Regions from separate parts of the Homo sapiens genome. Here all the other regions are linked to region 3. The links come from fine-mapping of genetic effects on gene expression. A gene starts in region 3. Each other region holds a variant in brackets. All regions are shown on one strand. Distances are between the middles of the regions. Region 1 overlaps INMT (indolethylamine N-methyltransferase). Region 2 has its middle 8.2 kb from the start of NOD1. Region 3 holds the start of LINC01176 (long intergenic non-protein coding RNA 1176). Region 4 overlaps ZNRF2 (zinc and ring finger 2).

Region 1 (8,172 bases), 370 kb before region 3:
CAGGCTGTACAAATATGATTTTCTGTATGTGCCCTGGAGATGCCTCCTGCTGCTCACAATTTTTAATCTTCTGCCTCTTGCTCTCCCTCTCCCCTGGTTCTCTGACTTCTTAGTCTACAGCTCTTTACAAACCTGGCTCCCTTGCTCTGATGGTTCAATTGGAGCACCTTCCTCTAGGTTGGTTACCTGAATATTTGAACTCCATGCACTTGGGCTGATGGTTATAGGGATTTTTCCCTTCTACTTCAGTCTCTATGCAGAGACCATGATATATCCTCAGCTTTAAGGCAGGCCTTGAGGATAGTCACAGGGTTTCTTCTCTGTGACTATCCCAGGTTTCCTGGCTTGAGTCCTTCACAAAAACAAGGCTGTTTGGAGCAAGCAGCAACTAGTGCCTTCCCAGCTCAACTCTAGCTGAAGGGTGGCTGCTTTGTGAACCCCTTCCTGTCCCCGGCATGCCAAGTGCTGGGCCTCTAGGTCCAGAGCTGAAGGAGGCAGCCCCAGAGCCCTCATCCATTTCTTTTACTCCTATGCCTGATTATAATGGTTAGTACCCATTTCCATTCAGAGTGACAGAAAAACTCAAAATAAGAGTAACTTAGTAAGGAAGTACTCAAAAAAATAAGGGAATCATGTCAGAAGAACAAACCACCACCCAGCTTAAAAGGGGTCCTACTGGCTAAATCTGTATATCAGAGTAAGTTATGATAGTCACAGATTATAACCAACTGAATAAAATAAGAACCCATGAGTCCATGTTTATATATATATATAGATAGATATATATATAGATATATAGATAGATAGATAGATATATAGATATATATATAGATAGATATATATAGATATATATATAGATAGATATATAGATATATATATAGATAGATATATAGATAGATAGATAGATATAGATATATATATATATATATAGATATATAAAGGAGAAGGGAAAGCCTCTCCTTACATTTGAATGTGAACTCATAAATGTAGAAAGGATGATGGAATTTGCCAATCATCATTTGGCAACCAGGATAATGATAATAATTCATTCAGACAAGAATCATCAATGGATGCTAAAACTAGTGGATACAGGATATTTATGTCATCTCAAAGAATCTCTCCATAAGATACTGCTTAATTACAAAGGGGAAAATGTTCACTTTATGATGGAGAAGTTGGCCAACCCATTAACCAAGTGATCAAAGTTATCATCCCCAGCCAGAGGACTATCAATGTTACATACCTCCTTATGCACTGAAAGAGACACAACACCACTTCTCTGGCATTTCTGCCATAATAATAATAAGGGTAACAATAATATCAGTGACTTAAACAAGATGAAAGTCTATTTGTCTCTCACATAAAAACCCAGGGCTCATGAGTGCTTCACATTATTAGGTTCCCAGTTTCCCTCTGTCTTGTTTCTCCGCCATGTGTGGCCTTGACCTCCTAAACCAAGATGCCAGCAGCCACATTCCAGATCACAGGACAGGGTAAAGGATGAAGAGTAAATAGCAGAGTCTAGGTTTACGACATCTTAAGGAAGGCTTCCAGAAGCTGGTACGACACTTCTGCTCAAATCCCTTCGGTCAGAACTCACTCACTTGACCGCACAAAGCTACAAAGGGGACTAGGAAATATAGTCTTGTTTAAGGCAGCCTTGCCCAGCTAAATGGAGCCCAGCCAAAAAATCTATTACTCTGAAGAAGTTAATGGGCATAGTGGGCACGGGAGAACAACTAGCAATCTCTGGAACACTGGCGTTCTTTTGTTTCAAGATGTCATGTTTCTATACCTCTGGTTCTTTTTATTAGGATCTCAGTTCATGACACCCCACACGCTTATTGTACATATAACATGCCCACATGTGCAGGATCTCAGAACTCAAGTCCTGCAGTCCTTGATCTCCACACGAGCCTGGGCCTGTCTCACTTCTGTGCTTGTACACAACTGTATGTTTTTATAGCTTTTCCCGTAAGTAGAGGCAGTTGCCTACGAAAATTTCTCCATGACCTCTGTGCTGCCTAAGCTGAGATGACCAGAATGGCCAACTTTTGTTCCTTTCCTTTCTAGATAAGCAGTTAAAATGACTCTGGTAAACAACCATGTTCCCCAAGCTTGGGTTTTTTCAGAGTTCTAGGAAAAAGAATAAATGCAGGGTTTTTGAGACTAGAATGGAGTCGCAAGATAAGCAGCATTTCTCAGCAAGGAGTCAAGAATGCATTAGGATAAGATAAGCTGAACTTACAGGCAGAGGGCAAAAGAGCTGTTGGGGTTTCATCCTCCTCTTCCCCACCTCCCCCACAGACCCTTCAACCTCCAGCTCCACCCCCATAAGGATACGGGAGTTAGAAATAGGTCAGGAAGAGATTGGGAAATGTACGTCCTTTTGAGCCTATGAAATGCTTCTGCTGGCATCTCTCCAAGTCTGGCTTGGCCTTGCTACTTGATTCCTATGATGTGGTGGAGGTAGATAGGTAGGAAGTAGGGGGTACCACACAGATAATAAATCTCCTGTGTCTTCTGTTTTCAAATTCAGGTTACTTCAGGACCACAGGGGCCATGACTTAGGAGTGGAGATGGGTTTTTGTGTAATTAGCCGCAACACACAGGTGTTCCCTCTGCTGGGAATGGCTAGCCCTTTTCTCCATCAGCCATCAGTGAACTATTCACTCTTCACTCTCAGCTCACAGATCACCTCCATGGCTTCCTGGACTTCCCCCAAGCCTAGTTAGATGTTCTTCTGCACCCCTGTGAGATGACAGTGTGGGGTCCAGGTTAAGCTCAGGCTCTGGAATGACAGTGCTTGGGTTCATAAGCCCAGCTCTCTACTTAATAGCTACTTTGAGAAGGTCTGTGCCTCAGTTTCCTCACCTGTAAAATGGAATTTCAAAATAATACTGTCCACATGAGCTGTTGTGAGAATTCAGTGAGTTTTACCTGTGGCTGGCCTCATAACGGCATTATTCACAATAGCCCAAACACAAACACCACCAAGTGTCCATCAGTGGATGAATGGATAAACAAAATGTGGCATATCCATACGATGGTATATTATTCAACCTTGAAAAGGAAGGAAATTCTGACACAGTGCAGCACGGATGAACCTGAAGACATTATGCTAAGTGAAATAAGCCAGTCACAAATGGACAAATACTGTATGATTCCACTTATATGAGGTACTTAGGGTAGTCACATTCATAAAGACACAGTAGAATGGCGGTTGCTGGGGGCGAGGGGAAGGGAGACCAGGAGTTACTGTCTAACGGGTACAGAGTTTCACCGTTGCATGATGAAACAGTTCTGTGGACCAATGGTCATGACTTACAAGTCTGCCTCTCTGCCCCAAACAGAAGGTTCCTTCCTTTAGTCACAATAGGGTTTTCTTCCCTAAAGAGTCCTTCCCCCATAGTCTTGACAGCATATCACAGGTTCTGCCCATTGGATAGAGTAAAACAAAATGTTTTATTAGAGCATGTAGAGAGTACTTATGGACAAATGACAGAGCACAGCATAGTCCCTCAGTCCATCCCAGCCCCATTTCATAAGGTAGAACAGCTTCCACAGCCCCCAAAGATTCCCTCACACCCTTGCCCACTCTCTCCTTCCAGGCAGCCAGCTGACTCTCTGCACTGAGCCGTCCAAGGAGCAGAGCCCCGGGTCTGGATCCTGTGTCTTTTCCCTGTGTCTTGGCCAGATCGCTCGCTAAGGGAGGTCCTGACATCACAAGGAGGGGGCATTTGTAGCCTCCTTTCCTTGGCAATCTCCTCTCCTGGACATTGCCTGGCTGCCACCTGGCAGAAGCCAGCCCCTTTTTGGCTGCCTCAACAGACAATTCACTTGTCTTTAAAATTCCCTACAAGACCTATTTTAGCCACTATTCTTCCCCTGTTTGTGGACATGGGCTCTCAGGGATCCACATCGGCTGGACCTCCCACTTCTTCCGCCTGTTGATCATTCTGCCATGAGCATGTCTAAAACTACCCATATTCGGCAAGGCACAGTGGTTCACACCTGTAATCCCAGCACTTTGGGAGGCCAAGGCGGGCAAATCACCTGACGTCAGGAGTTCGAGACCAGCCTGGCCAACATGGTGAAACCCTTTCTCTACTAAAAATACAAAAATTAGCCAGGCATGGTGGTAGACGCCTGTAATTCCAGCTGCTCAGGAGGCTGAGGCAGGAGAATCACTTGTACCCAGGAGGCGGAGGTTGTAATGAGCCAAGAACATGCCATTGTATTTCAGTCTGGGCAACAAGAGCGAAACTAGGTCTCAAAAAAATAAAAATAAAAATAAAAATAAAACTACCCATATTCAATGCCTTTCCAGACAAGGCCGGAGAGGGCTGTACTGAGAGAAGAGCTGGGGTCCACATGCTCTCTGGGGTAAAGCATGAGCCC[G/A]GAAGGGAAGGACTGCTGGCAGGGATGTTATCACAGAAACGAGTCTATGCTAAAAGAGAGCCAAAGGGAAGCAGGGCCCCCTGCCCTTCCAAGCCGGGTGGGGAGACCTGGTGGAATGAGGGTACACAGGGTGAACGAGGAGTCAGAACGCCTGAGTTCTTACTCCAGCTCTGTCACCAGCTTGCTGTGTGTCTCTGGACAAGTCGCTTTCCCTCTTGGGACCTATCGTCCCTGACTACAAAAAAAATGGAGATTTGGCTGGGCATGGTGGCTCACGCCTGTAATCCCAGCACCTTGGGAGGCCGAAGAGGGAGGATCACTTGAGGTCAGAGGTTCAAGACCAGTGTGGCCAACATGGTGAAACCCTGTCTATACTGAAAATAAAAAAATTAGCTGAGTGTGGTGGTGCACGCCTGTAGTCCCAGCGACTTGGGAGGCTGCAGCAAGATAATCGCTTGAACGTGGGAAGCTGAGGTTGCAGTGAGCTGAGATTGCACCACTGCACTCCAGCCTGGGCGATAGAGTGTGACTCTGTCTCAAAACAAACAAACAAAAAACCCGGAGATTAGACTGGGTAATTTTGAAAGACCATCTCAGCCCTGACCCTCTGGGGGAATAACATCAATGGGTCAATTTGTGCAAAACCTTTTACTTTTTAAAGCACAAAAATTTGCTGGGCATGGTGGTGCATGCCTGTAATCCCAGCTACTCAGGAGGCTGAGGCAGGAGAATCACTTGAACCCAGGAGGCGGAGCTTGCAGTGAGCTGAGATCGCACCATTGCACGCCAGCTTGGGCAACAAGAGTGAAACTACACCTTAAAAAAAGCACTTTCACCATCCTGGCTAACACGGTGAAACCCCGTCTCTACTAAAAATACAAAAAATTAGCCGGGCGTGGTGACGGGCACCTGTAGTCCCAGCTACTGGGGAGGTTGAGGCAGGAGAATGGCCTGAACCCGGGAGGCGGAGCTTGCAGTGAGCCGAGATAACGCCACTGCACTCCAGCCTGGGCGACGGAGTGAGACTCTGCCTCAAAAAAAAAAGCACTTCCACATCAATGACTTCCTGCTGTTCTTAGGATGTTCCTGTAGATTATTAGATTAAATCTCATGGATAGGAATACGAGGCCCAGAGAAGTGAAACAATTAGTGGCAGGGCTGAGAGTAGATTCCAGGTCTCCTGGCTCTTATCAAGGTTGCTGTGCCCAGGGTGTACCCACACAAAGGCACAGATTGGGGCTGAGGGAAAAAGGGAGGCTGACAGGTGCTCAGTAGTGTGACCCAATCAGCCTTAAGGAAGGGACATCTTTCTCTAATTGGTCTGCCCAGAAGAGGCACCTTGTTCTCATAGCGCTTCCACAGGGAGATGGAACAGCTTTTCTCAATTAATCAGCCCTGAACACTCCTTTCTGCAATGTGTCCATCTGCAGGAGCACCTCTTCCTAATTTGCACAAAGGCACCTTATGTACGAGGAATACCCTTGATCCCTGGGCTGCTCCTCTTCTCACTTGGTGTCAGGTCCTGGGGTCCAGGTCCAGCCCGTGCTAAAGTCTGAGGGGAGTGGGTAGATGGACAGAAAGAACACTCAGGGCCCATAGGCAGGTGAATATGGTTTTATTCAGCAACAGCTCTCATCAACAGCTTACACTAGCTCTCTCACACTGTCCGCCCTGCCTTGGCTGCTTGAGCCCGTGGCTTCCACACACAGCTGTGCAGCCTGCTCTCCCTTGCCTTCAGGGTCAGCAGCTTAACTTTTTCTCTCTCTGGGCGTGAGCAAGCTGAGCTGTGTCCTGGCTCCTTCCTGTCCATCTGCAAAACGGACAGCTTTGGCTCTCTCTCTCTCTTACTGGGCGCCAGTGTGCCCACCATGTCAAGCCATGTTGAGCTGAGCCGAACCCCAAGAGCCCCTGTACAGCATTAGCAGGACAATTACCTTTTACAGACAACAGTGGCTCAGACCAAGTATGAACTTACACAAACAGGTTATATAACAAGTGGAGGTGTGTGCCTGTGCACCAAACCCACTGAGTCATGCAGGCATGGATCTCTGCCTTGGCCTATTCCTTGACCAAAGCACATCCATGTACCTTACACCTGGGTCTGAAGTAGGGTTGCCAGATGAAATACAGGACACCCAGCTAAATTTGAATTTCAGGTGAACAACAAATCATTGTTTAGATTAAGCATGTTCCATGCAGTTCTGGGGACATACTTAACCTTATAGATTTATTTCATTTATCTAAAATTCAATGAACTGGGGCAGTCTGTATTTGCTAAATCTGCTGACCTTAGTCTAGAGGCAGTGGTATGTTCCAGCTGACTCCAATCAGCTCATGAGAGTCAACTGTAAAATATTTAGGAGATTTATGAGCTGGTTATTAAACCACTGGTGGCTTGAAATCAACCATGGTGGGAGTATTTACACCACAGAAATTGGTGACTACCACACATCAGTGCTTTTCCTTTACAGAGCTGGTTATAGAACATTCCCCCTGGCTGGGTGCGGTGGCTCACGCCTGTAATCCCAGCACTTTGGGAGGCCAAGGTGGGTGGATCACCAGGTCAGGAGATCGAGACCATCCTGGCTAACACGGTGAAACCCCATCTCTACTAAAAATACAAAAATTAGCCGGGCATGGTGGCGCGTGCCTGTAGTCCCAGCTACACGGGAGGCTGAGGCAGGAGAATGGCGTGAACCCGGGAGGCGGAGCTTGCAGTGAGTCGAGATCGCGCCACTGCACTCCAGCCTGGGCGACAGAGCGAAACTCCGTCTCAAATAAAAAAAAAAAAAAAAAAATTAGCTGGGTGTGGTGGCGAGCTCCTGTAGTCCCAGCTACTCGGGAGGCTGAGGCAGGAGAATGGCGTCAACCCAGGACGCAGAGCTTGCAGTGAGCCGAGATCGTGCCATTGCACTCTAGCCTGGGTGACAGAGCCAGACTCCGTCTCAAAAAAAAAAAAAAAATTCCCCAATATACCACTGTCCAGAGGTTTCCTTGTCCTTAACATATTAGGTAGACTCAGAGGTTTCCTTGTCCTTAACATATTAGGTAGACTCTAAAACCACGTCCCTGGGTGCTCCACAGTCACACAGGAGTCAGATCGCATCTAAGATAGCTGTAAGGCTTAGTATATTAGAAAATGGAAAATTCCACTCCTAGGATCCTAGAATGAGGAATGTTGGAAACTTAGAATTCTAAAACAAGGATGTTAGAATCTCAGAATTTCAGAAGATGGAATGTTAGTGTTGAAATCAGAGACTGTTAGACAGTATCCATTCCTCACCCCTCTCTAGCATACAGATGGCCAAGGCCTCACAGCCTGACCAGACCTCTGGCTGGCCCTCCTGGCTCAGGGCCCAGGCTTCTTGCGAGCCACAATGAAGCAGACCCCATTGTTGGCAGCATTGGTGACAGAGTAGCTCTGGGGACTGTGTAGGAGCTGTTCAATGTCAAAGCCAGCATCCAGGACAGCCTGCTCCACCTCCTCTTTCTCCAGGGCCACGCAGGAAAATTCACGCTTCCCCACCATGTAGGACGGGAGCCGAAGCGTGACAGTGGTCACCAGGTGGCCACCCGGCTTGAGCAGTGAGGCAAGGTTGCACAGGGCAGCGCGGTAGGCATCAAGGCTACAGCAGGCACACTCCATGGCCAGCAGGGTGAGCACACAGTCGGCGAGAGGCAACACAGCCGGGGCCAGCGGGTTGCCCAGGTGGACATCGCACTTGAGCACCCGCTTCACCGCTGCCCGCAGCTTCTCCTCCTTCTCCTCCC
Region 2 (8,172 bases), 97 kb before region 3:
AAAGCATCTGGCATAATTCAACACCGATGCATGATAAAAGTTCTCAGAAAAATAGGAATAGAGGGGAATTTCAACAATTTGATTAAGAGCATCTATAAATTACCTAGATCTAACATTATATTAATACATAATAATAAAAGACTGAATGATTTCTACCTAAAATTGAGAACAAGACAAGGATGTTTGCTCTCACCAGTCTTTTTTTTTTTTCTTTTCGAGACACTCTGTCACCCAGTCTGGAGTGCCGTGGCACAATCATAGGTCACTGTAGCCTCAAAATCCTGGACTTCAGCAATCCTCTTGCATCAGCCTCCTTAGTAGCTGGGACTACAGGTGCACACCACCACACCTGGCTAACTTTTGAAAAAATGTTTGTAGAGATGGGTCTCACTATGTTGCCTACATTGGTCTCAATCTTCTGGCCTCAGGCAGTCCTCCTGCCTCAGCCTCCCAAAGGAGTGGGATTACAGGTTTGAGGCACTGCACCCAGCCTGCTCTTACCCATCTTATTCAACATAGTGCTGGAAGTTCTAGCCAGTGCAATAAGGTAAGAAAGGGAAATAAAAAGCACACAAATCAGAAAGGAATAAATGAAACCATCCCTATTTTCAGATGACATTATTGTCTATGCAGAAAATCCCAAAGAATCTACAAAACATATCCCCTAGAACAAGTAAGTAAGTTCAGCAGCATTATGGGATACAATATAAACATAAAAAATCAATTGCATTCCTATATACTAGAAATAAATACATGGACACCAAATTTTAAAATGCAATAACATTTACAATTGCATTTTAATTGCATATTTATTTATAAGATGAAATTAACATAGCAAAATTAATTTTAAAGTAAACAATACAGTAGCATTTAATAAATTCACAATGTTGTGCAACCACCACCTCTACCTACTCCAAAAATATTTTCATCACCCCTAAAGGAAACCACATACCCATTAAGTAGTTACTGCCCATTTCTCCTTTCCCCAGACCCTGGAAACTTCTAATCTATTTTTTGTCTCTATGGATTTAGGTATCCTGGGTATTTAATATAAATGGAACCATACAATATGTGACCTTGTGTATGGTGTCTCTCACTTAGCATAATATCTTCAAGCTCCATCCACATTGTATCATGTATCAGTATTTCATTCCTTTTTATGGTTGAATAATATTCTGCTTTATGGGTATACCATAAATTGCTTATCCATATATCGATGGACATTTAGATTATTTTCACCCTTGATCATTGTGAATAGTGCTGCTCTAAACATTTATGTACATATGTTTGTGTGAGTACCTTTTTTCAATTATAGAGTCATACCAAGGAGTAGAATTACTGGGCTATATGGTAATTCTATGTTTAACTGTTTGAGGAACTCCCAAAATGTTTCCCACATTGGCTGAACCATTTTACATTCCTACCAGCAATATATACAATTGCTTTATTTAAAAAAAAAGAAATACATAAGTGTAACTCTCACAAAACATGTGCAGGACTTGTATGCTAAAAACTATAAAACACTAATGAAAGAACTCACAGAAGATCTAAATAAATGGAAAGGCATGCCATGTTCATGGATTGGAAGACTCAACATAGTAGAGATGTCAATTCTCCCCCAGATTGATATGCAGGTTTAACAAAATTCCTCTCAAAATACCAGCATAATTATTTTTCTAAAATTTATATGGAAAGCAAAGGGAACTCAAACAATTTTTAAAAAGAAGAATAAATTGAGAGGGATCACTCTACCCAATTTCAAGATTGTATGTTATTAGCATAGAGATAAACACATAGATCGATGGAACAGAACAGAGAATCTAGAAATAGATCAACACGAATATACTCACCTGGTTTTTTGGAAAGGTGCAAAGGGAATTTAATGGAGGAGGGACAGTCTTTTCAACAAATGGTGTCAGAGCAGCAATTAGACATCCATAGTCAAAAGAAAAAGACAAAAATAACCTTGACCTAAGTCTCACACCTTATACAAAAATTACCTCAAAGTCCATCTTGCGCTTAAATGTCTGACATAAAACTATAAAACTCCTAGTAAACATAAATAAATAAATAAATAAACATAGTAAAAAATCTTTGCAATCTAGGGCTTGGCAAACGGTTCTTAGATTTGACACCAAAAACATGATTCATAAAGGGAAAAATGGATAAATTAGACTTCATTAAAAAAACAAACAAACAAACAAAACCTTTGCTCTCTGAAAGACCCTAAGAGAATGAAAAGACAAGCTAGGAGAGGGACAAAACATTTACACACCAAATATAGAACTCTCAAAACTCAACAGTAAAAAAGCAAACAATCCAATCAGAAAAGGAAGCAAAAAGGCTGGGCATGGTAGTTCATGCCTGTAGTCCCAGCATTTTAGGAGGCCAAGGCAGGAGGATCACTTCAGCCTAGGAGGTGAAGGCTGCAGTAAGCCATGATCGTGCCACTGCACTCCAGCCTGGGTGACAGAGTGAGACCCAGTCTCAAAAAATAAAAAACAAAAAAAAAAAAAAATGAAGAAAAGCTACGAAGATACATTTCACCCAAGAGAAGACACAGCAAATAAGTGCATGAAAAGATGTTCAAAATCATTATTAGCAGATTAAAACCACAATGATGTATCAGTTGCTCTATACATATATCAGAATAGCTAAAACAAAAAATTATGACAGCACCAAATGCAGGTGAGTATGCCATGAAGTTGGACCACTCATACATTGCTGGTGGAATGTAAAATAGTACAGTCATTCTGGGGAAAACTTTATAAGTTTCTCAACTCAGCAGTTGCACTTCTGGACATTTCCCAGGGAAATGAAAACTTATTTTCACACATAAACTTGTATATGAATGCCTATAGTGGCTTTATTCATAATAGTCCAAATCTGGAGATAACCCAGATGCCTTTCAACAAACTATGGTAATTCACACCTAGCAATACTACTTACAATAAAAAGGAAAGAACTATTGATACATGCAACAGCCTGAATGAATCTTCAAAGAATTATGCTGACTGAAAACAACTATTCCAAAATGTTACATAATGTATGATTCCATTTATGTATGATTCTTGAAATGACAAAACTGTAGAAATGGATAACAGACAGTGGTTGCCAAGTGTTAAGTAGAGGAGGAGGTAGTATAAAGAGCAACATGAAGGAGGTTTGTGGTGATGGAAATGATCTGTATCTTGATGGCATTAATGTCTACCTTCTGGTCGTAATATTGTATTATAGCTTTGCAAGATGTTACCACTGAGGAAAATTGGGTTAGGATACATGGATCTCTCTTTCTTGCAACTGTATGTGAATTTAGAGTGATCTCAAAAGGTTTAAAAACAAACCAAATATATACATGACAGAATACTATTTGTCCATAAAAAGAATGAGATCCTGTCATTTGCAGCAACATGGATGGAACTGGAGGTCATTATGTTAAGTGAAATAAGCCAGGTACAGAAAGACAGATACTGCATGTTCTCACTTACATGTGGGAGCTAAAAATAAGTTAGTCTCATGGAGGTAGAGGGTAGAATAGCATGATAGTTACCACAGGCTGGGAATCGGGGAAGGGCAGGTGGTGGGGTGATGAAGAGCCATAGGTTAATGTGTACAAAAATAGAGTTAGAGAGAAGGAGTAAGTTCTAATGTTCTATATCAGAGTGGAGTGACTATAGTTATTGACAATGTATTTTATGTTTCATAAGAGCTAGAAGAGAGGACTTGAAATGTTCCCAATACACACAAATAATGAATACTCACGGCTGAGTGTGGTGGCTCAAGGCTGTAATCCCAGCACTTTGGGAGGCCGAGGTGGGTGGATCACCTGAGGTCAGAAGTTCAAGACCAGCCTGGCCAACATGGTGAAACCCCGTCTCAACTAAAAATACAAAGAATTAGCTGAGCGTGGTGGTGGGTGCCTGTAATCCCAGCTACTTCAGGAGGCTGAGGCAGAAGAATCG[T/C]TTGAACCTGTGATGCGGAAGTTGCAGTGAGCCAAGATCATGCCACTCACTGCAGTCCAGCCTGGGTGACAAGAGTGAAACTCCGTCTCAAAAAAAGAAAAGAAAAGAAAAGAAAGAAAGAAAGAGAGAGAAAGAAAGAGAGACAAGAAAGAAAGAAAGAAAGAAAGAAAGAAAGAAAGAAAGAAAGAAAGAAAGAAGGAAGGAAGGAAGGAAGGAAGGAAGGAAGGAAGGAAGGAAAGAAAGAAAGAAAGAAAGAAAGAAAGAAAGAAAGAAAGAAAGAAAGAAAGAAAGAAAAGAAAGAAAGGAAAGAAAGAAAGAAAGGATAAATACTCCATCTCAAAAAAACAGAAAAAAAAGAAAGAAAGTGGTGGACACTCCAAATACCCTGACTTGATTATTACACACAATCTATGCATGTAACAAAATACCACATGTACCCCATAAAAATACAAACATTATGTCTCAATAATAAATTATTTTAAAAGCAAAAACAACTATAAAATAGTTTTAAAATATAAAATCAACAAAGAAAAGGAGACTATTAAAAATGACCAAGAAAGCTAGAAAGACCAAAAAATATCTAAAAATCCTAGAAAATAAAGATATTATTGTTAAAATTAAGAACTTAAATAGACGGTGTATTACTTTCCTACTGCTGCTATAACAAGTTACCATAAATTTAGTGTCTTAAACAATACAAATTTATTGTCTTAGGGTTCTGGAGGCCAGCATTCCAAAATGGGTCTCACTGGACTAAAATCATAGTGTTGGCAGGTCTGCATTCCTTCTGGAGGGTCTGTGGGAGAATCCATTTCCTTGTCTTTTGCAGCACCAGAGGCCACCTGCATTCCTTGGCTCAGTCTCATTTCTCCATCTTCAAAGCCAGCAATGTCGGCCGAGTCCTTCTCAGGCAAGTCCTTCTCAGGCTGCCATCTCTCTGGTTCTCCCTCTTCTGCCTCCTTCTTCCACTTTTTAGTTCCCTTGTGATTACATTGGGCCCACCTCAATAACCCAGGATAATCCCTCCATCAAGATCAGTTGATTAGCAATCTTAATTCCACCTGCAACTTTAGTGTCCCTTTGCCATATTCACAGGTTCCAGGGGTAGGATGTGGACATCACTGGGGGGAGATTACTCTGCCTGCCATAGACAGGTTAAAAAGCAGATTCAAACATCTACAAAATAATTGCTGAGTCAAAAGACAGAACTGAAGTGACTCAGAATGCAGCCAGAGAAACAGGATAAGGAAAATAGAATGAGAGGTTACGACATGGAAGATAAAGTTCAGAATCCTAGAGGAAAAGAAAAAAAAAGTGTCTAATTTTTCTACCATAGGCTCATATAAGGATAGACTGGAGGAATTAGTATCTGTGAAGGAAAATAAATCTTGGGGCCCCAAAATCACTAAGCTAAAGGGAAAAGTCAAGTTAGGGCAAACCTGCCTCCCATTCTATTCAAAGTCATCCCTCTGCTCACTGAGATAAATGCATATCTGATTGGCTCCTTTGGAAAGGCTAATCAGAAACTCAAAAGGATGCAACGTTTGTCTCTCACCTACCTGTGACCTGGAAGACATCCTTGCTTGAGTTGTCCTGCCTTTCCAGACCGAACCAATGTTCATCTTACATATATCGATTGATGTCTCACGTGTCCCTAAAATATATAAAACCAAACTGTGCTCTGACCACCTTGGGCACATGTCATCAAGACCTCCCGAGGCTGCGTCACAGGTAAGCACCCTCAACCTTGGCAAAATAAACTTTCTAAATTAACTGAGACCGCCTCAGATATTGGGGGTTCACATATCCTAGCCATAATTCTGGTTCTTACTGTCACGCACGTCCGTGTGAAGAGACCACCAAACAGGCTTTGCATGAGCAACTAAGTTTTTTAATCACCTGGGTGGAGGTGGGCTGAGTCCAAAAAGAGAGTCAGCAAAGGGAGTTAGGGGTGGGACAGTTTTATAGGATTTGGGTGGGTAGTGGAAAATTACAGTCAAAGGGGGTTGTTCTCTGGTGGGCAGGGGCAGGGGTCACAAGGTGCTTGGTGGGGGAGTTTCTGAGCCAGGAGAAGGAATTTCACAAGGTAATGTCATCAGTTAGGCAGGAACCAGACATTTTCCTTTCTTTTGTGATTCTTCAGTTGCTTCAGGCCATCTGGATGTATACGTGCAGGCTTGGGCTCAGAGGCCTGCATTCCTGTCTTTTTATATTAATAAGAAAAATAAAACAAAATAGTGTTGAAGTGTTGGGGCAGTGAATATTTTGGGGGGTGGTATGGAGAGATAATGGGCGATGTTTCTCAAGGCTGCTTTGAGTGGGATTAGGGGCAGTGTGGGAACCTAGAGTGGGAAATATTAAGCTGAAGGAAGATTTTGTGGTAAGGCTGTTAGAAGGAACATTTGTCATATAGAACGATTGGTGATGGCCTGGACGCAGTTTTGTATGAATTGAAAAACTAAACGGAAGACACAGGTCCGAATAAGAGAAGGAGAAAAACAGGTATTAAAGGACTAAGAATTGGGAGGACCCAGGACATCTAATTGGAGAGTAACCAAAGGGGTTCAGCATAATTACTTGCTTGGTTGGCAAGTTTTTAGGTTCTATCCAAGTTTTTGGGGTGCAGTTCAAGTTGGGCTGGTATCTGGAATGAGACTGGGGCCTAATAAAAAGGAGTGTCCATACAGGAGCTCAAATGGGCTGTACCCTGTAGCAACCCAAGGACAGGCCCGAATTCTGAGAAGGGCAAGTGGTAAAAGTATTGTCCAGTTCTTTTTAAGTTGGAGGCTGAGCTTGGTGAGGTGTGTTTTTAAAAGACCATTAGTCCATTTTACCATTCCTGAAGATTGAGAATGGTAAGGGGTATTGAAGGTTTTACTGAATATCAAGAGCCTGAGAAACTGCTTGGGTGATTTGACTAATAAAGGCTGGTCCGTTATTGGACTGTATAGAGGTGGGAAGGCCAAACCGAGCAATTATGTCTGACAGAAGGGAAGAAATGACCGCGGTGGCCTTCTCAGACCCTGTGGGAAAGGCCTCTACCTATCTAGTGAAAGCGTATACCCAGACCAAGAGGTATTTTAGTTTTCTGACTCGGGGCATGTGAGTAAAGTCAATTTACCAGTCCTGGGCAGGGGTAAATTCTCGAGCTTGATGTGTAGGGAAGGGAGGGGGCCTGAGAAATCCCTGAGGAGAAACAGAATAGCAGATGGAACACTGAGAAGTGATTTTCTGAGGATAGATTTTTACAATGGAAAGGAAATGAGAGGTTTTAAGAGATGGGCTAGCGGCTTGTAACCTACATGGAAGAGGTTATGAAATGATGACAGAATAGAATGGGCCTGTGAGGCTGGAAAGAGATATTTTCCTTGGTCCTAGAACCATTTGCCTTATGTGGGAAGAGATTGATAAGTGGAAGTTTCAGTGGGACAGTAGGTGGGAGTGACCGAAGAGAAGGATAAAAACTGGCCATGAGGGACAGAAGTTGGAACTCTAGCTGCTTCTTTAGCTACCTTATCAGCATAAGCATTGCCCTGAGTGATGGGATCTGATGCCTTTTGATGGCCCTTGCAGTGAATGACTCCAGCTTCCTTTGGAAGTAAAGTGGTCTTGAGAAGAGTTTTTATTAAAGAGGCATTAATGATGGAGGACCTTTGCGTAGTGAGGGAACCTTTTTCTGCCTATATAACAGCATGGTGGTGCAGGATATGGGAGGCATATTTAGAGACAGTATAAATATTGACGTGTAGTCCTTTTGCAAGAGTGAGGGCTCAAGTTAAGGCAATGAGTTTGGCTTGCTGAGAGGTAGGGGAGCGGGGCAGAGTGGTAGCCTCAAGGATAGATGTGGAAGATACTACTATAGCATAGCCTGCCTTTGCTGGTGAATGGCAATTAGGCCTGGTGGAACTGCCAACAATAAACCAAGTGCGATCAAGGTGAGGAACAGGAAAGAAAGAAATATGGGGAAATGGAGTGAATGCCAGGTGGATTTAGAGAGATACAGTCATGGGGGTCAGGTGTGGTATCAGGAATAATGGGGGCTAGCTAAAACAGTAGGGTTAAGTTATTTGGACAGAAAGGCTACAGGGCACAATCCCAGCTCTTGTGTAAGAATTCTGACTGCACAGCCCTGCACTTCGGCTGTGTGTAATGAAAAAAGGGTTGGGATGAGTTACGGAGAGCTAGTGTGGGAGCAGCTTTTAGGGCTGTT
Region 3 (8,172 bases):
AGGCTGGGTGTGGTGGCTCACGACTGTAATCCCAGCACTTTGGGAAGCTGAGGCTGGCAGATCACGAGGTCAGGAGTTTGAGACCAGCCCAACCAACATGGTGAAACCCCATCTCGACTAAAAATACAAAAATTATCCGGGCGTGGTAGCACGTGCCTGTAATCCCAGCTACTCAGGAGGCTGAGGCAGGAGAATCACTTGAACCCAGGAAGTGGAGGTTGCAGTGAGCCAAGATTGCACCACTGCACTCCAGCCTGGGTGACAGAGAGAGACTCTGTCTCAAAAAAAACAAAAACAAACAAACAAAAAACTGAAATAAATGGTGAGATATATTACATTCACTGGTAACAGGACTCAATATTGTTAAGATGTCAAAATTGATCTATAGGTTCAATGCAATCCCAATCAAAATCCCAGTAGGAAGTCTGGTAGTAATTAATAGGCTGATTCCAAAATTTATATGGAGGGGCAAAGGAGCTATAAAAACTAAAACATTTGAGGAAAAAAAAAATAAAGCTGGAGGACTCACACTACCCAATTTCAAAACTTACTACAAAGCCACAGTAATTAAGACAGTATAGTCATAAAGAAGGGGCAGACACAGATGCAGAAAAGAAAATTCAGAAATAAATCCACACCCATGAATAACTGATTTTAAACAAGGTGTAAAGATAATACAGTGGATAAAGAACAGTCTTTTTAACAAATAATGCTAGAATAAGTGTATATACATACACAAAAACAAAAACAAAACTCTCCACCCATTGCTTGCACCACATAAAAAAAGTAACTAGAAATGGATCATACCTTAACTGCAATACCTAAATCTTCTACAACAAGAGTTAGCAAACTAAGGCTCATGGGCCAAATCTTTATCTGTTTTTGTAAAAACAGTTTTACTGAACACCTATTCATTTATGTATTTTATGGCTGCTTACATGCTACAACAGTGACTATGACCTGTAAAGCCTAAAATATTTTCTATTTGGCCCTTTACAGAAAAAGTTTGCTCACCTCTTTTCTAGAAGACAGATCTTTGTAACTTTGGGTTTACCAAACATTTCTTAGATTTGACACCAAAAGCACAATTCAAAAAAGAAAAAGACCCAATAAATTGAACTTCCATCAAAATTTTAAATGTCTGCTCTTCAAAAGACATTGCTAAGAAAACAAAAGAACAAGCCAGACTGGGAGAAAATAGAAAATACTTGCAAGTCATATATATATGTATATATATATGACATATATATATATGTATATATATATGACATATATATATGTCGTATATATATATGACATATATATATGTGTATATATATGACATATATATGTATATATGACATATATATGTATATATGACATATATATGTATATATATGACATATATATGTATATATATGACATATATGTGTATATATATGACATATATATGTATATATGACATATATGTATATATATGCCATATATATGTATATATATGCCATATATATGTATATATGCCATATATGTATATATGTCATATATATGTATATATATGTGACATATATATGTATATATATGACATATATATGTGTATATGACATATATATGTATATATATATGACATATATATGTATATATATGACATATATATGTTATATATATGACATATATATGTATATATATACATATATATGTATATATGACATATATATGTATATATTTGACATATATATTTGACATATATATATTTGACATATATATATATTTGACATATATATATATATATTTGACATATATATATATATATATATAATTTTTTTTTTTTTAAAGACAGGGTGTCACTCTGTCTCCCAGGCTGAAGTGCAGCAGCACAATCATGGCTCACTACAGCCACAACCGCCCAGGTAGCTGGGACAAAAGGCGTGTGCCACCACCATGCCTGGCTAATTTTTTGTATTTTTTGTACTTTTTTTTTTTTTTGTAGAGATGGGGTTTCACCATGCTGCCCAGGCTTGTCTCGAACTCCTGGGCTCAAGCAATTTGCCCACCTTGGCCTCCCAAAGTGCTGGGATTACAAGCGTGAGCCACCACACCTGGCCAAAACCATATTTTTGATAAAGGATTTGTATCAAGAATATACAAAGAATTCTCAAGATTCAGTAAGAAAACATACAATCCAGTTTTTCAAAAATGTGCCAAAGGGTTGAATAGACACTTCACTAAAGAAAATATACCTGTAGCAAAGAAGAATATGAAAAAATACACAACATCATTTGCATTGGGAGAATGAAAATGAAAAACACAATGAAATGCACCGTATACCCAAGTCAAAACAAAAAAATAGCAAAAACATCAAAACTGCAGACAATATCAAATTCTGGTGAGGATGCCAATCACCTGGAATTTTCATACATTTTTGGTGGGAATGCAAAGTGGCACCACCAGTTTGCAAACCTGTTTGGCAATTTCCTACTAAGTATATATACATATTTATCATATAACTAGCTATCCCACTCCTAGGAATGTACTCAAGAGAAACAAAATCTTTGATTCACATAAAAACTTCTAGGTGAGGCCGGGCGCAGTGGCTGACGCCTGTAATCCCAGCACTTTGCGGGACAGAGGCAGGCGGATCATGAGGTCAAGAGATCAAGACCATCCTGGCCAACATGGTGAAACCCAGTCTCTACTAAAAATGCAAAAATTAGCTGGGCGTGGTGGCATGTGCCTGTAATCCCAGCTACTAGGGAGGCTGAGGCAGGAGAATCACTTGAACCTGGGAGGCGGAGGTTGCAGTGAGCCAAGATCGGACCACTGCACTCCAGCCTGGCGACAGAGCGAGACTCTGTCTCAAAAACAAAACAAAACAAAACAAAAAAACTTCTAGGTGAATGTTAACAGCAGCTTAACCACTGTCACTAAAAACTGGAACCAACACAAATCTTCCACTAGTAAATGGATGAGTAAACTATGGATTGCCACTCAGCAATTAAAAGGACCAAGCTGCTGAATACACATGACAACATGGATGACTCAAATGATTATGCTAAGTGGAAGAAGCTGGGCTTCTGTGATTTTCTATTCTCATTCATATTCAAGTTGCTTGGGTAACTTGTAATCTTTATCGCTTGCCACACATTATTCTTGAATAAGTATTTAACGGGAGTCTCCTGACGCTTGAGATGAGCCCTCTTCCAGAGAGATCTTGCTGTGCTTCTGCCGAATTCAGATTTTGAGAATCCTTGGCCCAACCAGCTATGTATATTTGAGAAGCTAATCTTCAGGGAAGCAGATATGCACAGGCCTTCCAGGGAAATTGTATTTTCTATTTCTTTTCCTCCCTGCTCCAAGAGCACCAAGGTAGCCACAGTTCATTACAACTGCTGGGAAGAGGGCACTGGGTTCAGCTCTGACTCCTCCTTACCTTTAGCTCCTTGTTATCCGATTCCTGTTGGTAGGGTCTCCTGCAAGCACACTGTCTTGCGTGGGCTCTGTGCTTTAACATGTTTTCTTGGCTCAGCCAGGCCACAGAAACAGCAGACAAGTGTTTGTGGTATCAGCAACTGCTGTCTCAGCACAGGCAGCTTTTTGTTCCAGTATTCCATTTCCCTCCCTGGTTATAGACTTTTATCCAAAAACTGGCCTGGAAGTTCAATGTTTTTTTAGTTCTTCACTTAAAAAAAGCCATTATTTTGTTTCTTCAAGTTTTCATAACCAGCCATCACCAGAAACTGGAAGTCCAAACATGCTCTTATTATTTAAGTAATTGGTGTACATGGTATAAATTCACGTCTTACAGAAAGATGCACAATGAAAAAAAGCAGCCTCTCCATGGCCCCTCCTCCCAATTCCAGTCCCACCCACTCCAAGTAAAGCAAAAAGTGCTTTAGTTGTATTTCTAAACGTTCCTACAACAGATATCTATTATTTTGCAATGGGAAAAATTTTACTTTAAAACATCCCCGGAACTTCTAATCTTCTGATACTTATAACCTCCATATCTCCAAGTAACATCTTTCTCTGTCTCTTGGTTCACAAACTCCTATGTCCAATATCTCCCACCTAAAAATGATGCCCTTTATAATCCCCTTGAAAAAGTGGAGTATACTTACCTCCTTGCCACAATCCCAATATGTTAGTCTTATTATTTCTTAGCTTACTGAGTGCCAACTATGTGCCAGGCAGTGCTTTAGAACCCATGGATACAATAGTGATCAAAACTAACAAAGTCCTTGACTTCACAGTGCTTACATTCTGGAAGAAGAGTGACAATAAACAAACATAAGATTTGTCAGGTAAATGTTATAGAAAAATAGAACAAGGTAAAGGAAACAGGGAATGTAGGGGTGAGGGCAGATTCATGAACTTATTTTGTATTGTATAGTTAAGGAAGGGCACTCAGATAAGGCGATATCTGAGCCAACGCAACAAAGGAAGTGAAAGAGGAAGCCTGTGGATACTTGGAGGAATTGTTATAGGCAGAAGGAAGAAGTGCCAAGGCCCTGACACAGGGGCTTGCTTGCCTGGTGTATTCCAGGAATAGCTTCAGGGGAACAAGTCAGGGGTGAGCAGGAGAAGATGAGCTAGAGAGGCAGGAGTGAGTGGCATGTACATGTCTGTGTGTATGCATACATGCACACTCCGGATGGCTGAGGGTATTTTAGGTCATGGTAAAGACCTTAGCTTTGGCTCTGAGTAAGATGGGAGCCAAGGGGGATTTTCAGCAGAGTAGTACCATGATCTGACGCTGTATTTGTTAACTTATAATGACCCCTATATTCCTTGATCCATCAACTTTAGACCAAAATGTTCATCGAAACATTTTTTGTAACAGTAAAATATTGGGGGAAATTATTTGACCACAAGCATTGTCTAAAGATATTATGGTACAACTACGAAATGGAATACTATGCAAATACAAAACATGATAAATGGAATGTTAGAAATGTGGTTCTAAAATACCACATATAATGTTATCCTGTGAATATATATGCATTGAAGAGTATGGAAAGACATATGCCAACAAATAAGGAGAAAAAAGTCTCTGGGGAGATGGGAAAAGGAGAAATATGAAGGTATTTTTTCCTTTGTGCCTTGTGTTTCCAAAAGTTCCTACAACACATATCTATTATTTTGCAGTGGGGAAAATTTTACTTTAAAACATCCAAGGCCAGGCGTGGTGGCTCACGCCTGTAATCCCAGCACTTTGGGAGGCCGAGGGGGGTGGATCACCTGAGGTCAGGAGTTCAAAACCAGCCTGGCCAATGTGGTGAAACCCTGTCTCTTCTAAAAATACAAAAATTAGCCTGGTGTGGTGGCGGGCGCCTGTAATCCCAGCTACTCAGGAGGCTGAGGATGGAGAATCGCTTGAACCCGGGAGGTGGAGGTTGCAGTAAGCCGAGATCGCGCCACTGCATTCCAGCCTGGGCGACAAAAGTGAAACACCGTCTAAAAAAAAAAAAAAAAATCCAAAAGATTAGAACCATAAACTAATCATTTTCTTTGTTTTAAGCTCAAAACAATTATATACAGCTCCTATGAGAATAATCAATACTGAATATCAACAAACTGACACGCATGTGGCTACCAAGTCTCTAGAATGACCCACTGAAATTCAGTAAAAGCTTAGAGAGCACAGGGTTAACTGCCATGCTGCACTATTTCCCCTCTTACTTGAACAAAGTAACACTTGCTGATGTAACTGTGCTTGCCAAGTTTTTGATAGTAAGTCCATCATGTCTCGTAACTTCAAAGAGTCTCAAAAGTGTCAAGATCCTAAGACAGGAAACTTCTGGTAGCTGACAATGTCTGGTTAATAGGGGGTTTGGTGAAAGCACAGGCAATGGGCACAGTAGAGAAGCAAGCAGCAAACAATGGAGATGTCCAGGACCATCCTGGCACGTGTTCTCCAGCGTTTCTAGGAAAGGTCTCTGGTCTAGTTATCAACCGCTGTGTAACAAACCATCCCAAACTTAGTGAGATGAAACAACAATCATATATCATCTTCTCTCACAATTCTGGGGATTGACTGGACTCAGCTAGGCAGCTCTCCCTCAGGTCTCTCATCCAGCTCTAGCCAGATGGTGGTTAGGGTGGAATCATCTAGAAGGCTTCCTCACTCACATGTTTGGTGGTTGACGTGGCCAGGGCTTTCTCACACAGCATAGAACCTTGGTTCCACGGAGAACCTTCCTGAGAGAAAGCCAGTTAGAAGCTGTATTACCTATTCTAACTAAGCCCTGGAAGTCATACAGCATCACTTCTGTTGCATTCTGTTAGTTAGAAACAAGTTACTAGGGCCAGTTCATACTCAAGATGAGTGAAATTCAGATTTTGCTTCTTTTTTTTTTTTTTTTTTTTTTTTTTTTTTTTTTTTTTTTGCAGATGGAGTCTCACTCTGTCCCAGGTTGCAGTACAGTGGCATCATCTCCGCTCACTGCAAACTCTGCCTCCCAGGTTCAAGCGATTCTGCTGCCCCAGCCTCCTGAGTAGCTGGGATTACAGGTGTGCACCACCACACCCAGCTAATTTTTGTATTTTTAGTAGAGACGGGGTTTTGCCATGCTGGCCAGGCTGGTCTCGAACTCCTGACCTCAGATAAGTGCTCCAAAGTGAGAGCCATCACTATTATTTGCATAATCTCATTTACACAAACTTGATAAAAGCATAGTATCAAAAGGCTGATGTGAACTGCTTCATTAATAGTCTTATTTTCATCATCATTAGGTGCGGTCCACCTATGTCCCTGGCATTAGATGACTCCACAAAGTTTTATTTTATATTGAATTATATTCGCCTACTGCCTTTTTTTCGAGACAAGATCTTCCTCTGCTGCCCAGGCTGGAGTGCAGTGGCGCAATCATGACTCACTGCAGCCTCAACCTCCTGGGTTCAAGTGATCCTCCCATCTCAGCCTCCAGAATAGCTGGGACTACAGGCATGCCCCACCAATGCCTGGCTAATTTTTAAATTTTTTATAGGGATGGGGTCTCACTATGTTGCTCAGGCTGCTTTTGCACTCCTGGGCTCAAGTGATCCTCCTACCTCCCAAAGTACTGAGATTACAGGCATGAGCCACTGCGCCCAGCCTATTGCCTTCTTTTTAATTCATAATTTCAGAGATACTAATGGATGTCTTTCACACAACACTTCAAAAGAAGTTAACACTCTGAAAAAATACCACAATAATTTTCTAAATATTCAGTCATTGACTTAAATATTTATAGATGACTATTTTGTGTCAGAATCTTTTCTGGGTTCTGGGATACTGCAATGAACAAGACAGAAAAAAATCTCGCTTTCATCGAGTCCTCATTCTAGTGGGAGAAGGGAGATAAGATAAACAAGGAAACAAACATGATGAGGTAGGCAGTGCTAAGTGCTAAGAAGTTTAACAGGGAACAGGATGCAGAACAATGGGGGTGGTCTTCTTCTTTAGACAGAATGATCAGAGAGAGGCTATTTTATAAAGATGGGGTGGCCACAGGCGGCCTTTCTGAGGTGTGAGATTTATGCAGAGGTCTGAACAAAGAAAGAGCCAGCCAAATGAAGATGTGGAGGAAGAGCATAAATATTATAATACAAAAAACTGTATCTCACTATTAGTTCTTATTCCAGCACTAGTTCAATGGGACTTTAAAGCAAAAATCCACTTGCTAAGACACAAATCTCTCAAACATATTGGGCAGAATAAAAAGTTCTGCAGTTTTAAAAAGCTGCTGTTATAATGGATGGATTAAATGTTTTTAAATATGAACCACATATAAAAGTACCAGGAGAAAATACAAGTGAAAGTTTATGTAAACTTGAGATGGGTAAAATCCTTCTAAGCATGACCACAAAGTTCAAAAACATACAGCAAAGATTGAAAAGTGTGATTACTTTTATAAGAAGGCAAAAATATTGGACAGCAACAAAATACCCAAAAACACCACAAGAAAATACACTGCCATGAAGATTCCAAGATAAATGGCAAACTGAGAAACACATTTGCAACATATATTAACAGTCTAACACTAAAAATATATAAAAATAAATCACTAAGGAAAAAAAGAACAGGCAATAGTCATAAGCAAGTAATTCACTAGGAAATACACATGGCCAGGACACTAATGAAAGACATTCAACTACAGTCATCATAAAAGAAATGCAACAGAAACTTATTTTTTGCTTATAGTATAGCAAAGATGG
Region 4 (8,172 bases), 26 kb after region 3:
TTTAAGAATGGAAGACAACAAAATAATTCTCATCACAAGAGTATACCAGCAATAGAAAATGAACCAATTATTCACATTCTAAGAGGTTTTACTTGAGGGGGTTGAGCAGGAGGGTATGAAAGCTTACAAAATCAAAAATGTGAAATAAAATGAAATCAAATTAAGACTTCATGGTAACAGAAAAAAACAGAAAAAGAATCGTTTCCTTAAGGGACGAATATTTTTCATAACTAGTAAAAAAGCACCTATTAAACTGTGCCTTCAGCTGTCACAATGGAGGTTTTGGATTCCTTTAGCAATTGCAGCATAACAAAAGGCATTTCACAGCATAACTTCAGGGAAAATGTTATCTGAGCTGGAATCATACAGAAAGCAATTAAAAACTCTTTAATTATTTATAATACACACATTTTTCTGGGTAGCAGCAGTTGCTCCTGTACTTGCCCTTTTAAAAAATGTGAAACAGAAGCAAGAAAGTAGGGGGAAAAATTTAGAGAAGATTAAGAGTAGCAGCGTTAAATAAAACAGCAAATTCTTAAATACATTATGAGTAAAGAAAGATTAAAATAAGGAAACAGTACTTACTGTGCAACTTTAAATTATACCAAGTAAAGTACACCACCTATTCACTGATAACATTTTCCCTACGTTGAAAACACAAAACCTACTTATCGATATTTTTGATATTAAAAAAAAGGACATTCACTATTGTAGCCCTGACAACTCTTCCAGTATTTTTAACCATTCAGATGTATTATGTGGGAATATTTATTAACATAATTTTGTTTAACACATTTCTTTCTACACAAACTGAATTTAAAAGTGTCTATAACATTTTCAATTACAGTAATAACACATGAATAAATTATAAATTAACAAAATCTTCATATCTACTTTAAAAAATCATTTATCAAATGCTAACCTCCAGATTATCTGGAAAATTAAAGTTGCAAATTGCTATAAACCTGGCATCCCAATTAAATTACAGTTTTTAAAGGTATATAAAATCTCCCTCAAATTCCAAGTTCCTCTCCAGAAAATTTTATTTTACCCTTTTCTTAAGTTTACAGCCTGCTAAACATTTTACCCAAATGTGAGAGAACTGCCTGGAGATGCAAAGCACAATAAAATAATTAAGTGAAAAGAACAAACAAAAGATACCCGTTAAAACAGTTATTTTAGCTGGCAGCACTTGAAATTGGTAATCTGTATTTTTTTTAAATTGCATAGCTGCAAGATGATTCACTGCTGATTAACTGTTGAGCAGTTTTATTTAAGAGGATAAGAATATTTAATAAATTGCAATTCAGTAGAATATTCTATATTTAATTAAAATGTAATTATGTAATATGATTTGCTCTTTGGACTGCATTCTGATATTAAACCTTTAATTTAAAAATATTAACATATTTTAGCTTTCCTATGTAGAAGTCTATTTTCCACTCGTGGGGGAGAAAATGGAAGAACTTGAGATCATGGTCTACATTCAGATGTTTTTACTGCTTGATTACATTTCTTGGTTTCACATTTAAGACTTCAATTTATAAGAAGTAAATTATATGTTTTTCAATTTAAGAACAGATGAATGCAGAAACATTATGAACATTATGTTGGGGAAAACAAAGAGACCCCAAATTAAAAAACAAAACAAATCAAAACATAACTAGTTGTGCAGCTCTGGAGAACTTAATAAAAAGTAAATCAACTTTTAAATCAGTTAACTTTGGCGTCTGAATACAAAATGTTTATCAGTATTACCTATGTAGATGACTATTAAGGGATGTGCAGCATTTTCAAAATCCCTGTGTGTCCTTTGTATGCATGTTTGGTACACTGAGTTCTGTGGTCACTGTCCTCTCTTCAGCAGGGTTTTTTTACCCCAGTACGATTGTCCATCTCTGTATTACCAAGTCTCACAAAACTCAGATTTCTGGCTGAGTATGCCTGCGTCTTTGTTTCTCCAGAGACAGATTTTCATATCCTCTTGGTTTTTCAAGCATCTTGTCAAGACAAGAAAACCTGTGTAAAAATAGATTTCCCCATGAACATTGCTTTAGTTACTGTAAGTCTTCATACCCTTACTTACTATTCTGAAAACTCATAAAATCAGTGATCTGGAGAAGAACAGATTAAGAAACAGAAGGATCAATTAAAGTTTAGTCACAAAAAATACATAACAAAGTCATCCCCCTTTCACAATAAGGACTACACGCAAGTAAAGAATGCACACACACGGAGATTTAAAATATTTCTCCCAAATAACTAAAAACCCCAAAATAAGTACAGCAATTTTCTAACTAATCAAGACCACAAATATTCATGTCTCTCTATTTTGGGTTGATTATTAAATTCTTATGCTGAAGGATATCAGAAACGTTGAGCTTTATGGCTACACAGTGCCTTACAAAATGTTTTAACAACACTGAATCCTCCTCAAACCCATATACCTTTAATCTAGGACTATTAAAAGGTATACAAGAATTTATCACTTGATAAATAAGAACAGTCAGGACAGAAGCAAAAATGTACAAGTCAAGATATTCCATGTCTATAAACTCTTAAAAATGACTCTTCAAGACCCACAGAAGCAGACTCCATTGGTTCAGATTTCTGTAGACACCTGATTAACAGAGTTCACCCTGCCCATGTAGTAGGCTAGTTTCAAATTCAGGTTCTATATTCGAAAACAAACAAATAAGCAAATATAACACTCATATGTAACATAAGAAAATGGAAATGTTGTTGAAGACCAACAGACATATGCATTTCAGCTATGAGATGAGATGTATGCTCCACATATCCCATAAGCTCACTGTGACACTAAAGGAAAAATTTAGCTGATGAAAGAAAAAAAATTTATACAATATAATTCCACCTCACCAAAAAAAAAAAAAAAAAAAAAAAAAGCTTATCAGCTCTATGGTCTAAATGTTTGTGTACTCCCAAAATTGCTATGTTAAAACCTAATCTGCAGTGCTATAGTATTAAGAGGTGGGGCCTTTGGGACATGATTAGGTGATGAGGGCTCTGACCACATGAATGCAGTTAGTATCCTTATAGAAGCTTGAGGGAGTCTGTTATCCCACCACGTGAGGACACACAGAAGGTGCCATAAATGAGCAATGAGCCCTCATCAGACACCAGATCTACTGGCTGGAACCTTGATCTTAGACTTCCCAGCTTCCAGAACTGTGAGCACTAAATTTCTGTCATGTATAAATTACTCATCTAAGGTATTTTGTTATAGCAGCCCAAAATGCACTAAGAAAGACTAAAAAGACAAATTTTATCTATAGATGAAGGATTTAGATGTATTACTTTGGCATGTAAAATACTAAGACAAAAATTTCATTTTGTTAGCATCAGTTTCAGTACTTCCCTTAAAATGCTTCTATAATTTTAGCCACAGTTTCGTTTTGTCTCAAACATAAGGTGACAATGAAGGCATTCCAAACCTTTTCTATGGTGAAATAAAAACATATGTGCACATATATTCAAAATACCACTCCACCACTATACTTCTCTTACCTAGCATTCTTACTTCCATTCACATTTTATTTATTTATTTATTTAGACAGGGACTTGCTAAGTCACCCAGGCAGGAGTGCACTGGTGTGTTCATAGCTCACTGCAGCCTCAAACTCCTTATCTCAAGCAATTAGTGTTCAGCCTCAATTCATATTTTAAATGTGTCAAGGCATGATCTAAGTAAGTTCACAGGAAAGGTTAAAATTGGCAGTCTTTTAGTACTCTGCAGTCTACCAAGGCTTCCACATTTCACATGCACATGCGTAGTCTTATGACACTCAACTGCAGTTCTCATTTCAGGTGCTATTGCTGCTATTATCTCAAATCTTCTCTGTCAATATTCTAATCTGCTACTCTTAAATCATCTTCCACCAATACAGCAACAGAATTCCTTGAGGGTGTTTATTACCTCAACACTTTTATTCTCAAATTTAAGAGAAGTTATTGAAATAAAAGGAAATGGTACCACACAGGACTAGACCTCTGGACGTCATCTGGTCTAGTTCCTTGCCATCAGTCTCAGCCTCCTAGAAAAGCCGGCTGTTACTGTCTTGAGTCCCTGAACAAAGAGACTCTCACTCCTGAAACAATTCTAGGATTAGCTAAAATGCTCTGCCTTGATATAACAATCCAATGCTTTATATCATCTCTCCAAGTCTTTTCATAAAAGCTTTTCATATATTTGAAGATAGCAATTAAGTTAACCTTTATTTTTTCAAAGCTAAATGATGTCAATTTAATGCACTTGTGAAATGTGAAAAAAAAAAGCCCTATGAAAATACCCAATTGAGGTCAGCATTCAATTCACTAAACATTTTCAGATAATGCAGAACCATGAAAAACTTAAATCAGTAGAACAAAACTAGTTTTTTTTTCAGTCGTAAAATGCAACTTTATTTTTTGCCTACTATATAGACAGGCACTGTATTACATGCTAAAGATATAAAAGTGAATGATTAAATTGAATGAATAAATTTATGATGCGACTGTTTGAAGAAAATGTTCCTACCTAAAAAGAGCAAAATTGCTAAGAACAGTCTTTGGAACCAGAATACCTGGGTTCAAATTTCATCCCCACCAACAAACTAGTTATCTGAACTTGAAAAGTCAAGTTTCTTAACCTCTCTATACTTAATTTCTTCATCTGCGTAATAGGAACAGTAATGGTACTGAGCTCAAAACGGTTATTGTAACAATTAGACAAGTTACTAATAGATGTAAAATGCTTACAACAACACCTGGCACATGATAATACTAAATGATTAGAATTATTATTTTTTGGTTTGGTTGTTTTTGAGACAGTCTTGCTCTGTCACCCAGGCTGGAGTGCAGTGGCATGATCTCGGCTCACTGCAACCTCCACTTCCTGGGTTCAAGTGATTCTCTTTTGTTTTTTGTTTTTTTTGAGAAGGAGACTCGCTCTGTCGCCCAGGCTAGAGTGCAGTGGCACGATCTCAGCTCACCGCCAACTCCACCTCCTGGGTTCACACCATTCTCCTGCCTCAGCCTCCCAAGCAGCTGGGACTACAGGCACCCGCCACCAGGCCTGGCTAATTTTTTTT[TG/G]TATTTTCAGTAGAGACGGGGTTTCACCGTGTTAGCCAGGGATGGTCTCAATCTCCTGACCTCGTGACCCGCCCGCCTCGGCTTCCCAAAGTGCTGGGATTACAGGTGTGAGCCACCATGCCCAGCCTCAAGTGATTCTTGTACCTCAGCCTCCCGAGTAGCTCGGATTACAGGTGTGCACCACCAAGCCTGGCTAATTTTTGTATTTTTAGTAGAGACAGAGTTTCACCATGTTGGCCAGGCTGGTCTTGAACTTTTGGCCTCAAGTGATCCACCTGCCTGAGGCCTCCCAAAGTGCTGGGATTACAGGCGCGAGCCAGCATACCCAGCCAACAATTAGAATTATACAATATTTTTAATGTAAGTTTTCTATGCAGTAGCCTAAGTGTCTGAAACATACACATACACACTCATGCACCTCAATGAGTAAATGAATAAATAAAAATTATAGTTTAGAATGTATAATTTGGGCTAACGCTTTAAAAAGTAATTACAAAAAAAATTACCTATAAAACAGGAAGCTGACGCTTAATCTGAAGGGTGCTCAGGGCAAGATCTATTTACTTCAAACCATTCATCTATGCAGCTAGAAAGGAACAAAACCAGAAAAATTGAGATACTTATACTAATTATTTATATAATGAGAGCCACAGTAAAAATACTTGACTTTAATATATTTTTTACAGAAAAAAATGAGCATTTTAAATTATATTTGGCATACATAAGCAACAGATAAGAATGTTTATTATATTTTGATTCTAAGCGATTAAGAAAAAAACCTTTGCAAAATTATGCTATAAAGTACTTTAAAGTTCAAACAGAACTACTTCCAAAAGATAATCTGAACTACCACTTTACCAATATTCAAAACTGAATAACAAATTTGCATAATTTTTCTTTTCAAAACAGTTATTCATTTATGCACATTATCAACCTGTTCATGTCACCTATAAATGTATTAAAAAACGGCTTTTAAATTTTAATCCTTGCCAATATTTCATTTTTAAAGCTATATTTATATGTGATTATTGAATATTTAAATCCTATCCCACCATGTAATACATATACATACACAAATAAATATACATTAATCATTTGTATTTAGGAAGTATTTTATGATCTTATTTTATTAGAAGCTAAATATTAGGGTGCATATGATCATCGTCATTGTGGATCTGCACTGTCCAACAGAGTAGACAAGAGCCACACACTGGTTATTTAAGATTTATTGAAATAAAATAAAAAAATCCAGTTCCTCAGTCACACTAGCCACATTTCAAGCACTCAACAGCAACATGGCTCACGACTACTCTAGGGGACAGCATAGATATAGAACATTTCCATTATGGTAGAAAGTTCTATTTCACAGTACCATGATAGGTGAAAAAATCAAGGTCTACTAACTAGCTATTACTTGCCTAACAGCTAGCAAGTTATCCAAGCAGGATTCAACCTGTTCAACATTTTCATTGGTGACATATTTCAAATTTGCATATGCCGCAAAGCTACAAGACTTGGTTAATATACTGAAGGGCAAAATTAACATTTATCATCCTCATGTCCAGATAGGTTGGTTTGGTAGGTAAAAGTGATAAGATGAAACTAAAAAGAAAAAAGGTAGAGTACCACATCAACAGGTTCTTTCAAATATCTGAATTTCAGCTGCCATTAAGACTTTTGTTCTCGAAATATATAGCCAGTTTGGCTTAAGACATTGTTTTCAGCCTGCTCTCTACCACTTGGCCCTGGAAGTTCCACTGTGTCTACCAGAAAACCTCTTAAAACAAAATTCTGAGCATCAAATAAAATACTCCAGATGTGTTAATTCATAATATATCTGAATAGTATCTATTTGCGAGCTAACATGAGTACTCCTTATTTTACAACCAGGTAACTCTGGCTCATCATGAGAAAGTAATCATTTAAAACTCCAGGTCCTCTTCACATAAACGTCTGTCAATCTACATATGTTCCATTCTAGGCTATATTCATTTGTTATTTACATGATTATATTCCCTTCTCTCAGACCTAGCAGGAAAGCACTATTCTCAATTTGGTATTTTTCATTTCTAGGCATCTTCTTACTCTATATAACTATATATGTGTATATTCTAAAACAACATATAGTACTGCTTCCATGTTTAAAATTTTATATAAATGCTACCATAAAACAGCATTATGCTTTTTGTAACTTGCTTTTTTTGCTCAATTTGAGATTTGCAATTGTTAGTAAGTCTCTTGCTTTTACATTTTCGCTTTTTGTTTTTTGAGACGGAGTCTTGCTCTGTCGCCCAGCCTGAAGTGCAGTGGCAACATCTCAATTCACTGCAAACTCTGCCGCCTCCCGGGTTCAAGCAATTCTCCTGCCTCAGCCTCCTGGGTAGCTGGGATTACAGGCGCCACCTGCCACAAACCCAGCTAATTTTTTTTTTTTTCCAGTAGAGACAAGGTTTCACCATGTTGGTCAGGCTGGTCTTGAACTCAGGTGATCCACCCACCTCAGCCTCCCAAAGTGTTGGGATTATAGGTGTCAGCCACTGCGCCTGGCCTGTTTTTACATTTTCATTGTGTACAACATTCCATTATATAAATATAAACAATTTACATATACATTCTTTCACTGATGGACATTTTCAATGATGCTATGAACATTCTTTGAGATAAGGAGTTTGCGCCCAAATACAAGTTAATTTCCTCACTAATCACACTGTTTCAAATGACTTTAAAAAATCACAGCAAGGCTTTCTCAATGAAAGAAGCATAGTGTTGATTTAACTGGCAGAAACTCTTTATTGCCTTCTGGACTTGTACTTTGAATAGTAGCACTGTCTTAGAGCAAAAGATCAAGAGTTTCTCTAGGGCATATATGTAGAGGTGGAATTACTGAGTTGTAGAATATGTACTCCACACAGCTATTACAGGGTTATCTACCAAATATGCCTATTTGTATTATTTATTGGCCAATTGAGGGTCCTTTTTTCTGAATTAACTGATAGTTTTCTAGGAAACTATTATCCAGGTATTTCAGTTATAATATACAGGCTTTTGATAAACACTGCTTTCCACAAAACTTTAAGCTAA

Evidence for each region. PIP is the estimated chance that this variant, and not a neighbour inherited with it, causes the effect.
Region 1: its variant is the best candidate, but not a certain one, in a credible set for the expression of LINC01176 in prefrontal cortex (GTEx, PIP 0.89).
Region 2: its variant is the best candidate, but not a certain one, in a credible set for the expression of LINC01176 in ileum (GTEx, PIP 0.58).
Region 4: its variant is the best candidate, but not a certain one, in a credible set for the expression of LINC01176 in whole blood (TOPMed, PIP 0.64).

Annotation. Positions count from the first base shown.
Region 1 is chr7:30,755,430-30,763,601 of GRCh38, reverse strand. INMT (indolethylamine N-methyltransferase) reads right to left here. Exons shown (of 3, transcript NM_006774.5): 3 at 6,000-8,172. The coding sequence ends at 7,751. All of the region lies in intron 2 of INMT-MINDY4 (INMT-MINDY4 readthrough (NMD candidate)), which reads right to left. Among named protein-coding and RNA genes, the nearest start is that of INMT-MINDY4, 7.4 kb to the right of the region's middle. The variant G/A (reference allele first, on the strand shown) is at 4,402.
Region 2 is chr7:30,482,905-30,491,076 of GRCh38, reverse strand. No RefSeq gene overlaps it. Among named protein-coding and RNA genes, the nearest start is that of NOD1, 8.2 kb to the right of the region's middle. The variant T/C (reference allele first, on the strand shown) is at 3,963.
Region 3 is chr7:30,386,270-30,394,441 of GRCh38, reverse strand. It overlaps LINC01176 (long intergenic non-protein coding RNA 1176), which reads right to left and starts at 3,557. Exons shown (of 3, transcript NR_108081.1): 1 at 3,407-3,557. RefSeq lists an enhancer at 2,757-3,375.
Region 4 is chr7:30,359,882-30,368,053 of GRCh38, reverse strand. It overlaps ZNRF2 (zinc and ring finger 2), which reads right to left. Exons shown (of 5, transcript NM_147128.4): 4 at 5,598-5,677; 5 at 365-2,019. The coding sequence ends at 5,620. Among named protein-coding and RNA genes, the nearest start is that of LINC01176, 27 kb to the left of the region's middle. The variant TG/G (reference allele first, on the strand shown) is at 5,091.